Linked DNA regions of Homo sapiens. The protein of the gene in region 4 interacts with the protein of the main gene of each other region in a biochemical or structural test. Each region holds a gene or a part of one and is shown on either strand. Other genes may lie near its edges.

Region 1 (3,528 bases), on a different chromosome or scaffold from region 4:
GTCCCAGGATGAGGCATTATAAGATTGGAACCACATTTTTAAATAAATGAAACTACCAGGGTGAAAGTCATATCAACTGACAATAAACTAGGATAACATGCTGTGCTGAAAGAGAGAATGGAGAGTTTCTAATAACCAAATTATAAAATATATATATCTAGCTGGGGTAATAAAATGGAGGAGGAACATGAATATTTCACACCATGGTCGCCTCTGATGCAATTGTCAGCAGCACCTGCCAACAGACATGAGTGATGTGGCCATGGCTTGGGGATGGAATGTGAAAAACTTGAAGAGGAGTTATGATGCGGGTGAGGAGAGCTGGAAGCAGAGTGGGGTAGACAAAAAGAACACTTACCATCAGGATTCTGGGAGTCAGCATCTTTAGGGATGGTGTACAGGTCATAGGTACTATTCTCTAGATTGCTAGCTCTCTGTAGAAGAAAAGGGGAAATTAAAATGTTAGTGAGAAGCACCCAAGATACCAGTTTTCCAATTTACTCTGACAGAGAAAACAGTTCCATTGCACAGACACCAATCTGAAACCATACTTTTCTTACCCTTCACCCAGAGGGCATTTGACTGTTTCTACATCTATGAGTTATAGGGCTCTTTGCCAAACACATCAGCACTGATGTCACTTTATTTTCTTTATCCTCCAAAGATGCAGATATTATCTGAATGAAAGTAAGAAATGCTCTCTACTCCACAAATTAACAGACTAGGACCCTGATATTCTGGTACCCCACCCTGAGGACTCATCAACTGAGTACTCAACCTCTGGAAAGGAAAAAAAAAAGACATCAAAGAAAAGACACTATAGGAATGCAAATGTTTATTGGAAAAAGAAGAAAAGAAAAAACACTCAAGAAAACTCAGAGTATGGGACTACTAGATATTAAAGAAGAACAGATTAGACAATATAGTTATATGAGGAAAGACATTTAACTTCATTCCTTTTAACTTGGCCACGAGGGCACTAAAATTAGAATGTCATTTCTTTTTTTTTTTTTTTTGCAAATTCTGTTGCAAGAAACAGAGAGGAGTCATTGATGACTCTGAAGCCAACCCCACTGATATGAACTTCCTCTCAAAATAATAGTTCTTCTATTTTCACCCAAAGGAAGGGATCAAGGTAAACATTTTCTTTCCATAGGAAATATATATATATAGTCTAAACATTCTCTCAAATTATTTCTAGTGATCTGGGTCATTCATTCTGATGCTCCATTAAGTTCAGCTTTAGGAAAGATAGGCAGTTCACAAATGCTCAATATGTTTACGACAACTGAAACCTACCTGATTTGAGTCTCTGAGTGATCACTGTGTCAGCTCTCACAAAATGACCATTAAATAGTTTCTAAGAAGCCATTAAAGATTCCCTAAGGGCATAAGAAAGAGACCTATGGAAAATGAGGAGAACCTAGGAGGGCTCCACAGGTTACTTACTGTACAAAGCAGGACTGCATTTTCTGCTGGATTGTATGACATATTGAATACTGGAAACTTGGAACCACTAGAGATATATATAGAAAAAGGAGAAAACAGGGAAGAGGCATAAGAATAGAAGGAAGAAAGGAATCACCCCCACACCTCCTACTTATCCAATCTTTACACTATATACTCATCACTTTTATAATCAGGAATAAAATGAATAAATATTGTATTCTCTTCCTTTAAGGCTTGGCAACTTCCCTAGCTCAGCTTTGAACAAACAGTTTTAAAAAGTAAGCCATAGTAGAAGTCAAATTATTCAACAGAAGGTAGGTAGGGTTAACACTCACTGTAGTGAGTGGGACTGGTTCTGCTTGGATACAAATTCCTACACGTAATTGCAGTGGACACCACAGAGTAACATAATGTGATTTGTCTCTGGCTGGTTTCTCCTGTCCCTTGGAGTATTCACATAAACCCATTTTTTTATTGTAATGATGCTAAAGGGTGGTTATCAAAACCTCATTCCAAATTTTGCCACCATGAATGTTTCAGCATGCTGATGCAGCTGGCTTTTCAAAAGGACAGGTCCTTTTGCCAGGCATCCCAGAGGTTATTGTATCTTCAGAATTAAGAGTTTCCAGGGACATATATTCTGGTTCAGAGTTGTGCACTTTTTGCTGGAAGGCAAGGGAGAGTTAAAGAAAAGAAATGCCAAACAAAGGCGAAAAGTTCTGTTACCAGTTTGGGCCATTCTCTATCAAGAAACTTCCTCTGGCTTGCAAGAGACCCAGCAAATTGTGGCAGAATGATTTTCCATCCACAAGGTCACTAGCATTCTCAAGAAGGGAACTATCATTCTACTCATGACCACTTCCTTGCCTCCCTCACTCATTGGGTTTAAACTGAGCGGGCTCATCTAATGGGGATTCCATCTGTGACAGAATACGAGATCCAAAATGTCATTTAAAAGAAGAGTCTTGGTTGGGTGCGGTGGCTCACGCCTGCAATCCCAGAACTTTGGGAGGCCGAGGTGGGCGGATCACAAGGTCAGGAGTTCGAGGCCAGCCTGACCAACACAGCGAAACCCCGTCTCTACTCAAAATACAAAATTAGCCAGGTGTGGTGGTGCACACCTGTAATCCCAGCTACTTGGGAGACTGAGGCAGGAGAATTGCTTGAACCCAGGAGGTGGAGGTTGCAGTGAGCTGAGGTTGCATCACTGCGCTCCAGCCTGGGTGACAGAGTGAGACTCCATCTCAAAAAAAAAAAATTTAAAAATAAATAAATAGGCTGGGCGCGGTGGCTCACGCCTGTAATCCCAGCACTTTGGGAGGCCAAGCCAGGCAGATCATGAGGTCAGGAGATTGAGACCATCCTGGCTAACATGGTGAAACCGTCTCTACTAAAAAATACAAAAAATTAGCCAGGCGTGGTGGCGGGCGCCTGTAGTCCCAGTACTTGGGAGGCTGAGGCAGGAGAATGGTGTGAACCCGGGAGGCGGAGCTTGCAGTGAGCCGAGATCGCGCCACTGCACTCCAGCCTGGGCGACAAAGCGAGACTCCGTCTCAAAAAAAAATTAAATAAATAAAATAAATAAATGAAAGAAAGAAAAGAAGAGTCTTGTTTGTGGGAGTTGTATCAGGGTGACAGATGAGAGGGTTTGGAGGAAAGAAACAAGTCCGATTTACCTCCGCAACTGCATCACAGCTACATCTTTGGAGCTGTTGAAATCCAGCTGTCGTAAGAATCGGTCCTTGACATAGTGTAGCATATTGCCATGAACAGCATAGGCTGGCCGTTCCCGTTCCAGCTTAAACACAATCATACCACCATCATGGCCTGGGGGACAGGGAGAGGAGGAGAAAAAATTAAGCTGTAGGCAAGAAAAAAACCTGGAAATTGGAGATACGTAAGGATGAAGATTATATCTGTAAGACAAGACACCTGAATGCATCCCTTATTTGCCTAAATTCTCACAATTCTTGGAATCTTTATTTAAATAATTCTCTGTGAATCCTTTCCTAATACTATTCACACTGCCACACTTAGTGTCACTATCCACACTGCCCTTTTCTGTGTTCCCCTAATGCT
Region 2 (3,528 bases), on a different chromosome or scaffold from region 4:
AACCTCTCATTATTTAGATCCATAACAAGACTCAAATCTCAAGAGGTTCTGGGGGTTGACACAAAATGTGACATGTGATGATATGCAATACATACCAAAAAACTGCAGGATTTGGCCAATTTATGTTAATGGAAAGCTGGAAAATACATATCCCAGAATTACCTTCCCTGTATGGTTCTGCCTTAGAGCTAGGCAAAAGAAAAATGTACACAACACTTAGAAGACAGACAAAAAGCAGCAGCTGTATGTTCTGAAGGTCAGGGTGGCCTAAGGTAATGAGAGGCAGGTTTAGTTTGTACTCATTTTTCTTTTTCCTTATTCTATTCCTTATTCCCCTTCCCCACTCCACATCCAGCTCTTCTTCTCAACTGCCAGCACTGCTGACTAACAGCAATCCCAGGCCCACCAGAAACTTGACTAAGAACTGACAAATGTGGTAGCTATGTGCACTGACTTCTTTATCAGTCCACCTTCACAGTGTCATGCCAGAAGCTAGGTATTAACAGTCTTTATGACTTCACGGTAGATCTGCAGGGAAAAGTTTTACACTGCATACTTTAATTCTTCCATTTTCACGTCTTATAATGAATATTTATAAGTTTTATAAGCAGTTAAATAATTTAAAACATTTCAAGCAATGCTCCCTAATTTAGAACACTCTTAGTTCCCTGGGGAAAATAAATAAAAGGAGGTTTTTCATCGTAAAAAAAATTTAAAAAGACTTACATCATTAGATTGAAACAATCGCGTCATTGCAAAGAAGGCTTCTGTAGCTTCCGTTGTTCCAAAGTGTTCACCCTAAGTAAAATTTAAAACAATTTTTAAATTTTAAAAAGTGTATATTCATATATATGTACATATACACACACAGGATTTTCTATTTCTGCAAAAATCCTTTAGAACTCAAGAAAAAAGAATCTCTTTGTAAACATTCTGCCTCTGCAATTTTTCTGGCTTTCAATGCATAAACCCACATAGCCATTTATCCCCCCTTATTTAAAATAATTCAGTATCGCATACCATGCTTAAAAGTTCTGGCATAGTGATCTCTAAACTTTTAGTAGAAAGTATCTGAAATTTTCCTGAAGTATTGTAGTTTACAAGGAGGGAGAAAATTACAGCACTCACAATAGGACATTATTATTACACTGCCTAAGAGCAGAGATCATATCTATAATGCCCAGCACAATGCCTAACATGTCATGGGAGCATAATAAATATTAAAATATAAGGAACTATCTATTCAGAATCTCAGCAAAATGGCAAGAAGGGGACCAACCAAAAGGGCAGGAACCAGATTCATCATATTAAAAAACTAGGCTTAAGGGGCTGCTATGTAGCTCAATATTGGTTCAAGCCCCTAAAAACATGCTTTGGATCAGAGCTTCAAACAGTTTAATGAGCATGACAATTCATCCTGGGATCTTGCCAAAATGCAGATTCTGATTCAGTGGCTCTGGGGTAAAGCCTGAGATTTTGCATTTCTTTTCTTTTTTTTTTTTTTTTTTTTTTTTTTGAGACGGAGTCTCACCCTGTTGCTCAGGTTGGAGTGCAATGGCGCAATCTTGGCTCACTGCAACCTCCACCTCCTGGGTTCAAGTGATTCTCCTGCCTCAGCCTCCCAAGTAGCTGTGATTACAGGTGTGCACCACCACGCCCAACTAATTTTTTGTTATCTTTAGTAGAGACGGGGTTTCACCATGTTGGCCAGGCTGGTCTTGAACTCCTGACCTCGTGATCCACCTGCCTCGGCCTCCCAAAGTGCTGGGATTACAGGCTTGAGCCACTGCGCCTGGCCTGAGATTTGGCATTTCTAACAAGTGATGCAAATGCTGATCTGGGAACTACATTTTCTGAGCAGTGAAAAAGTGTTAGATAACGTATTTCAAAACATCTCAAATCATAGATTACCTCAAATATTACCATTTCAATATTTAATGTCTTCACTAAAAGCAATCTTATATAATACGTTACACTCAATCACTTTTCAGAGCTTCAGATTCCACATAAAATATAACTAGTCTTCAATCTATTTGCCATAGGTATAAGAATAAATTTTGGTGAAAAATACTGACAGTTTAGGATAAAAGACAAAGTACAATAAGTTTATACTTACTTAAATCAGTGTATCCAGCCTGCTCATCAGCATGAGATTTATCTTTCTTTCACAACTATTTACTGAATACCCAGAAGTCTGTGTGCTTTTTAGTTATACAGGAAAACCTTACATCCTACTTTTTTACTTGAAACTCAGAAAACACATGGATATGTCAACTCTCATAGAAATTCAAAAGTATCTTTCTATAAAGCTCTACCAAGTTCTAGGCAAAGAGATAAAATTTATGTTCCCAAACCTGTTTATATAGTTAATTGTGTTTATGCTGTGCTTGGTAATTTCCTTATCAAGATAATTAAATGTTTCAACATGAGTTGCCTCATTGAAGAGGTAATGACCAACATAAAAATACATGTTACTCTCAATCAACTTTGACTATTCAAAACTTTTGTTTATACAATGGATTTGGCCAACTTAGACACAATGTGTGCTATGAAAAGTTAAACCCAATTGACTATGCTTTAAATGTTTCTCATATGCTGACACAGAGGGATTATGTTGTTTGTGAACAGATATATTTTATTTAAAACTATGTGTTTGATGATCAGGCACAGTAGCTCACACCTGTAATCCCAGGACTTTGGGAAGCTGAGGTGGGCGGATCACCTAAGGTCAGGAGTTTGAGACCCACCTGGCCAATATGGTGAAACCCCGTCTCTACTAAAAATATAAAAATTAGCCAGGCGTGGTGGTGCATGCCTGTAATCCCAGCTACTCAGGAGGCTAAAGTAGGAGAATTGCTTGAACCAGGGAGGTGGAGGTTGTAGTGAGCCGAGATTGCGCCACTGCACTCCAGCCTGGTAACAGAGCGAGACTCCATCTCAAAAAATAAAAAAAATCTATGTGCTTGTTGCTTAGTCTTCATTTGTAAACAAGAAAACTTTATTAAATCTCTGAGTGAGGTCTTCAGTCACAAAACAAAGTAAAGATAATATATTCTCTTAGAATTCAAATTGGAAACCATGGTTATCTTAGCACCATATGTAAACCACCTGAGGTATATGGTATATATGTATGTTTTATGTGTCCGTCTGTATGTGTATAGACATATATAGTCAGCCCTCCATAACCATGAGTTCTGAATCTGTGGATTCAACCAGGCTCAGATTGAAAATATTCAAGGAAAAAAAAAACTATGTTTGTACTGAACACGTACAGATGGTTTTTTGTCATTATTCCCTAAACAATACAGCACAACAACTATTTACACAGCACTAACATTGCACCAGGTATTGTAATCTAGAGATTATAGTCTAAGTATTATAATCACAGAGACAACTTATATATGGGAGGATATGTGTAGGTTATATGCAAATACTACACCATTTGTATGAGGGACTTGAGCATCTATGGACTTTAGTATCCAATGGAGGTCCTGGAACCAATTCCCCACTGATACTGAGGGAATATGA
Region 3 (3,528 bases), on a different chromosome or scaffold from region 4:
AACCAGTACCACAGCCCTGAGATAAGAGATGAATCAAAATATTCCATACTGGCTTCAAATATTTAAACTGCAAAAGATGGCTGGGCATGGTGGCTGACGCCTGTAATCCCAGTACTTTGTGAGGCCGAGGCAGGCAGATTGCTTGAGTCCAGGAGTTCGAGACCAGCCTGGGCAACAAGGCAAAACCCCATCTCTACCAAAATACAGAAATTAGCCCAGCGTGGTGGTGCATGCCTGTAGTCCCAGCTACTTGGGAGGCTGAGGTGGGAGAATCACTTGAACCTGGGAGGCAGAGGTTGCAACAAGCTGAGATTGCACCACTGTACTCCAGCCTGGGTGACAGAGTGAAACCCCATCTCAAAAAAATAAATAAATAAAATAAAAATGCAAAATATATTAATTTGCTATTAAAGATATCTACAAGTTTTGGATTAAAGATTGGTTCTACTTAGACTTTAATTAGAAAAAGTCATGCCAAAATACAGTGTGGGGTCACCATAGCTCTAGTCCCCTAATTCAAGTGCATTCTAAGAGATACGCTATATACCAGGTGTGACTACAAGTAACTTTAATTTAGCTGTAAAAGGAAAGTTCTAAACTTCATAGAAAATAGGTGGCTGAGGGCCCCCAATCATGGTTTAAGGAAAAAGGAAAAGGTCAGGTGCAGCAACGCATGCCTGTATCCCAGTTACTTGGGAGGCTGAGGCAGGAAGATTAACTGAGCTCAGGAGTTGGAGGCCAGCCTAGACAACATAGTAAGACCCTGTCTCAAAAAAATAAAACAAAACAACAGCCGGGCGTGGTGGCTCACGCCTGTAATCCCAGCACTTCGGGAGGCTGAGTCAGGCGGATCACAAGGTCAGGAGATCGAGACCATTCTGGCTAACACGGCGAAACCCCATCTCTACTAAAAATACAAAAAAATTAGCCGGGCGTAGGGGTGGGCGCCTGTGGTCCCAGCTACTCGGGAGGCTGAGGCAGGAGAATGGCGTGAACCTGGGAGGGAGAGCTTGCAGCGAGCCGAGATCACACCACTGCACTCCAGCCTGGGTGACAGAGTGAGACTCCATCTCAAAAAAAAATAAGTAAATAAAACAAAACAAAACCAAAAACGATCTTATGTTAATATGTAGAATCTGCTCTGAATAAATCTTTTAAATCAGGAACGATTAAAAGACAGAGAAAGAATTTATAGCACACTGAAATAAGATTTTTAAAAAATTATGTGGACTGTATTCAAAGCTTGAATTCTTACTCAAAGTTCCTACTTACCTTTCCATATTAATGGGTGGAGCATGCATTTTGGTTGCTTCAGAAGTACGCTTGCCCATACTAGAGGACATGATGGTTTCACCTTCAGATTTTAATTTGTCCACAAAGTTATCTACTTCCTTTCCTTTGGCTCCAAGTTTTAAAGCCTTGCTGGGGCCTGAAGGCCTAAGTGGAAGAATTTGAAATTCATTACCCAAAGGTTTATTTTTACAAGCACACATGATCTGATGAAAATTTTGTATCTCCCGTCCAGAGAAATACACCTGTGCACAAAATTTTGTATATAATTTTGGGTAATTCACAGATTTCCCCTAAAATCAATCAATGAACATCAAGATTAAAAATCTACATTCCATAAAGCATTAAATAGCCCTTTCCTCCCCACAATAAGGCAACTCTCATAGGAAACTGAGGTCATGACATAATTTATAACTCTCTTTTATACAAAAGGAAAAACACCACATTCAGATTTCTTCTTTATCCTCATATTGTATGTGGCCAAATGTAACATCATATCTTACTTCATCAAGTCCTTCTTTATTTACAGCTTTCCAAGAAATCAGATTATGACTTCAAAGATAGACACATATACACCCTTCACCTGGTATTCTAAAGTACACTGGATTATACCTGGCTGGTGCAGGTGCCACTTTTGGTTTATCAGTTTCAATGATGGTCTCTGTGATCATGGCAGCTGTGCTGCCTCCAGATACTGCAGAGCTGCCAAATCCGCCAAATCCTGGTGCTTTTTTGCCCTGTCTCTCTGCATCTCTTCGGGCCTGTTGTAATTCCTTTGCTTTACGACGCATCTCAGCCTTAGCTTCACGTTCTTGAGTCTACAGAAAAAGACATACATTAATGTAGCTTTTTTTTTTGGGTTTTTGTTGAGACAGGGTCTCACTCTGTGACCCAGGCTGGAGTGCAAGTGGCACAATCACAGCTCACTGCAGCCTCAACTTCCTGGGCTCAAGTGATCCTCCCATCTCAGCCTCCCAAGTAGCTGGGACCCACATGCACGTGCTACCATGCCTGGCTAATTTTTTTTTTACTTTTTATAGAGACAGGGTCTCACTACGCTGTCCAGTCTGGTCTTGAACTCCTGGACTCAAGTGATACTCCCACTTCCGCCTCCCAAAGTGCTGAGATTACAGACATGAGCCACTGTGCCTAGCCTGGACATAGTTTTGAATACAGTCTACATTAGTAAGTAAAAATAGGAAAATGAGATTAGTGAAGCCTAAGAGAAAGACATACAAACAGGTAGTCCCAGAGAAGATCCTATTTACCTCTCTGACGGCTCTGAACACCTTCTCCTCATGAGAATCCATTTCTGTGAAGGTTCTGATCTGTGCCAAGTTAACATTCTCCCGGTATCCCAGTGCGACAATTTCATCAAAAGCAAAAATCAAATCAAAACAGTGCTCAGATATTTCATTCTCTTCTAAGGCTCGGCAATATTCAGGGATCTAAGCGTGGACACCAATAAAAAAGAAAGATTTAGAATTTATCAGCAGCTATATTTCCAAGTCTTATCCTTTAGAGTACATAAATTTCAATAACCTAAATCCCTTTATTAGCTACTTCTAGTCTTTATTTTATTTTTTGGGACAGAGTCTCGCTCTGCTGCCCACGCTGGAGTGCAGTGGTGCCATCTCGGCTCACTGCAACCTCCATCTCCTGGGTTTAAGTGATTCTCCTGCCTCAGCTTCCGGAGTAGCTGGGACTACAGGTGTGTACCACCACGCCCAGCTAATTTTTGTATTTTTAGTAGAGACGGGGTTTCACCATGTTGGCCAGGCTGGTGTTGAACTCCTGACCTCAGGTGATCCGCTTGCCTCAGTCTCCCAAACTGCTGGGATTACAGGCGTGAGCCACTGCGCCCAGCCTAACTCCCTGATTTTTTTTTTTTTTTTTTTTTTAAGACAAAGTCTAACTCTGTCACCCGGTCTGGAGTGCAGTGGCACGATCTCGGCTCACTGCAACCCCCACCTCCTGGGTTCACGCAATTCTCATGCCTCAGCCTCCTGAGTAGTAGGATTATGGGTGCCCGCCACCATGCCCAGCTAATTTTTTTGTATTTTGAGTAGAGACGAGGTTTCACCACGTTGGTCAGGCTGGTCTCAAACTTCTGACCTCAGGTGATCCACCCGCCTCAGCCTCCCAAAGTGCTGGGATTACAAGCGTGAGCCACCACGCCCAAGACCCTGATTCTTACAGCCGGGTGCAGCGGCTCATGCCTGTAATCCCAGCACTTCG
Region 4 (3,528 bases):
GTGGCGGGCGCCTGTAGTCCCAGCTACTTGGGAGGCTGAGGCAGGAGAATGGTGTGAACCCCGGGGAGCAGAGCCTGCAGTGAGCCAAGATTGCACCACCGCACTGCAGCCTGGGTGAAAGCGAGACTCCATCTCAACAAAAAAAGAAAAAGTGGAACTAAGTGAACGGACACCATGAAAAAGACTGAAAGCCGCTATGGGCTGCATCTGCTCACAAATGTGTTCTGTGGCTTGCATGGTATATTACATTTTCAAAAATGACACCTAGCTTGTGGTCTCCAAATACCAATCCCCACAAAAAGGAACTAGAATTCCTTAGAGAAACAGTTGTTCTGAGGTCAGAGGATAGACATATACAAGATAAGCCTAGAACACTTTGTTGTGCCAGAAAACAAGGATGCTATCAAAACCTAACAGGATTATGTTGAAAAAATACAGGAGCCAATATGAAGGAACCAAAGGGACAAATTGGGCATAAAGAATGGAAACAACTGCCTAAAACACAATGATTCTAAAAGTTGAAGCCAACAATTAAAAAGAGTTCAGTAAAATACTTTAAAAAAAAACCCAAAAACTCTTGGACAACACTGAAAATGACAAGGGCAACAATTCCTTACTCTGACAATTATCAATTAGAAGAAATAAATTCTGCATTTATCCTACCAATGTGAATGATAAATTTTAGGATAATCAGATGATATTAATTCCTTAAGAATAATTTCAGCTAATAAATATGGAAGGAGTAACGGAATTAGAAAGTCATCATTTCACAACCTTAATGACATAATAAATGCACACAGTAGTCATCAGTGGATTCCTAAGTGAAAGGTTAATGGGAAACTTTACAATGAAGGCTTTGGGCTATTACCACCCGGGTAGAGAAAAAAATGCCTCCCACACACAAAGATGTCCACATCCTAATCCCTAGAACCCACGAATGTGTTATCTTACATGGCAAAAGGGATTGTGCAGATGTGATTAAATCAGATTAAGGGTCTTGAGGTGGAGAAGATTATCACAAGGGTCCTTATAAGGGAACGAGGGAGGCAGGTGAGTAAGAGAATGAGATGAGATGATGATAGCCGGGGAAGGAGGGAGGAAGAGAGGAAGAAGGGGTGGTGAGGAACAAAGCAGAGGATGGAAAAGGGAAGGAAAGGGAGAGAGTTAAAGATACTATGCTACTGGCTTTAATTTTTTTTTTTTTTTTGAGACAAAGTCTCGCTCTGTCACCCAGGCTGGAGTGCCGTGGCACGATCTCGGCTCACTACAATCTCCGCCTCCCAGGTTCAAGCGATTCCCCTGCCTCAGTCTCCTGAGTAGCTGGGACTACAGGTGTGCACCACCATGCCCAGCTAATTTTTGTATGTTTGGTGAAGACGGGGTTTCACCATGTTGGCCAGGCTGGTCTCAAACTCCTAACCTTCAGTGATTTGCCCGCCTTGGCCTCCCAAAGCGTTGGGATTACAGACGAGAGCCACCGCGCCCAGCCTGGCTTTAAAGATGGAGGAAGGAGATATGAGCCAAAGAATACAAGTGGCTTCTAGAAGCTAGAAAGGGCAAGAAAACTGATCCCCACCCCACTCCCAAAAAGTCTCCAGAAGAAACATGGCTCTGCCAAAACCCTGATTTTAGGACTTCTGACCTTCAGAACGATTAAGACAAATCCCTGATGTTTTAGGCCATAAATCTGTGGTAATTTGTTACAGCAGCAATAGGACACTAAGACACACCTTAATCCACTTATCAATCTTAGCAGCAGCAATAAGGGGCACAAAAAGTACTGTGTGTTCCTGCAGTGACACCCTCGACAGAAAGATTAAACCTGAATCTGGTTACATCTTTTTTTTTTTTTTTACACTTTAAGTTCTGGAGGGGTACATGTGCAGAACGTGCAGGTTTGTTACATAGGTATACGTGTGCCATGGTGGTTTGCTGAACCTCTGGTTACATCTTTACAGCTGATTCCTTTTACAAAAAATATAGTGGAAGAACTGGTTAAAAGACACCTCTAGGAAGCAAAAGACAACTCCGAAATGCTGTACATTCTTTTAAGAGCAATTGACTCCAACAATTCAATTGCAAGGATAAAAAAGGAGGTGAGAGGAAGAGGAGACTGCTCTAGATTAGACACTTGAGAGAGACAACAAATTAACTTTCAAAAGATATTTTTGAGACAAGTGGGATCATACTATATGGACTGGGTATCAAGGAATCATTGTTCTTTTTTTTTTTTTGGAGACAGAGTCTCACTCTGTAGCCCAGGTAGGAGTGCAGTGGCACAATCATACTTCACTGCAACTTCCGCCTCCCAGGTTCAAGAGATTCTCCTGCCTCAGCCTAGAGCAGCTGGGATTACAGATGTGTGCCACCACGCCCAGCTAATTTTTTTTTAAATTTTTAGTAGAGACGGGGTTTCACCGTGTTGGTCAGGCTGGTCTCGAACTCCTGACCTCGTGATTCGCCCACCTCGGCCTCCCAAAGTGCTGGGATTACAGGCATGAGCCACCGCGCCTGGCCATCATTGTTCATTTTGTGAGGCGTGATTAGCCACGTAACATTGTGGTTTATATTTTTAAAGAGATGCATGCTGAAGTAGGCAGGAATGAAATACATGACATCTGGGATTTACTTTAATACAATTTAGCATGAAATGATATGGCAGAAGCAGTTAAGATGACACGTGTGGAAAGATCCTGATAATTGGTGAATATGAGTAATGGGTAGAAAGGTGAACTCACTATACTATTCCCTATAACACTGAAAACAAATCAATGCCCGAACCAATCTGAATTGGCTGGTGAAATTTTTTTTTTTTAATTTTTAGGGGGCCAAACCATTTTATTGAGGAAAATGGAGTGGCAAAGCAGTGGTGAGGACAATGAGATCCATGGCCCTCGGGTGGGCCGGGAGCTCCCAAGCTCTGCAGTGCTGAAACCTGGCTGATGAAATTTAAAAGTCTGGAGCTTTCACATCAAAATCTGGTGTTCCTATTTCATTTGAAAAATCAGATGTGGGCTAGGTGCAATGGCTCATGCCTGTAATCCGAGCACTTTGGGAGGCCGAGATGGGCGGATCACTTGAGCCCAGGAGTTCGAGACCAGCCTGGGTAACATGGCGAAACTCCATTTCTACAAACAAATATGAAAACTAGCCGGATATGGTGGCATGTGCCTGTAATCCCAGCTACTCAGGAGCCTGAAGTAGGAGGATCACCTGGGCCCTGAGGAGGTCAAGGCTGCAGTGAGCTGTGATGGTGCCACTGGAGGGAGGGAGGGAGAGAGGGAGGAAGAAAGGAAGGAAGGGAAGGAAGAGGGGAGGGGAGGGGAAGGGAAAAATCAGATGTGGCAAAAAGGCCCACATGCTTGCATGGCAAGTCTCATCAAGAACTAAGTATTGGTCACCCCTAATTAACAGTTTCTACTACGTCCAATTATTCTCCCATTTATCATCACTGCTTTTTTTTTTAAAATACCTGGTCCAATTTATTCAATGATATTACCTATTTGGCATTTGGGTTTAGGACCCTTG

What was found. The genes of interacting proteins can lie anywhere in the genome.
Region 1: the proteins of TMED10 (region 4) and COPA form a complex in vitro, tested with the Homo sapiens proteins (one study listed by BioGRID).
Region 2: the proteins of TMED10 (region 4) and COPG2 form a complex in vitro, tested with the Homo sapiens proteins (one study listed by BioGRID).
Region 3: the proteins of TMED10 (region 4) and ARCN1 form a complex in vitro, tested with the Homo sapiens proteins (one study listed by BioGRID).

The regions. Positions count from the first base shown.
Region 1 is NC_000001.11:160,308,743-160,312,270, forward strand, and holds part of COPA (coatomer subunit alpha), read right to left. Parts: intron 3,277-3,528; coding exon 3,126-3,276; intron 1,517-3,125; coding exon 1,450-1,516; intron 435-1,449; coding exon 359-434; intron 1-358. UniProt on the Homo sapiens protein: The coatomer is a cytosolic protein complex that binds to dilysine motifs and reversibly associates with Golgi non-clathrin-coated vesicles, which further mediate biosynthetic protein transport from the ER, via the Golgi up to the trans Golgi network.
Region 2 is NC_000007.14:130,662,241-130,665,768, forward strand, and holds part of COPG2 (coatomer subunit gamma-2), read right to left. Parts: intron 799-3,528; coding exon 727-798; intron 1-726. UniProt on the Homo sapiens protein: The coatomer is a cytosolic protein complex that binds to dilysine motifs and reversibly associates with Golgi non-clathrin-coated vesicles, which further mediate biosynthetic protein transport from the ER, via the Golgi up to the trans Golgi network.
Region 3 is NC_000011.10:118,582,389-118,585,916, reverse strand, and holds part of ARCN1 (coatomer subunit delta), read right to left. Parts: intron 2,739-3,528; coding exon 2,559-2,738; intron 2,109-2,558; coding exon 1,903-2,108; intron 1,438-1,902; coding exon 1,273-1,437; intron 1-1,272. UniProt on the Homo sapiens protein: Component of the coatomer, a cytosolic protein complex that binds to dilysine motifs and reversibly associates with Golgi non-clathrin-coated vesicles, which further mediate biosynthetic protein transport from the ER, via the Golgi up to the trans Golgi network.
Region 4 is NC_000014.9:75,170,091-75,173,618, forward strand, and holds part of TMED10 (transmembrane emp24 domain-containing protein 10 precursor), read right to left. Parts: intron 1-3,528. UniProt on the Homo sapiens protein: Cargo receptor involved in protein vesicular trafficking and quality control in the endoplasmic reticulum (ER) and Golgi.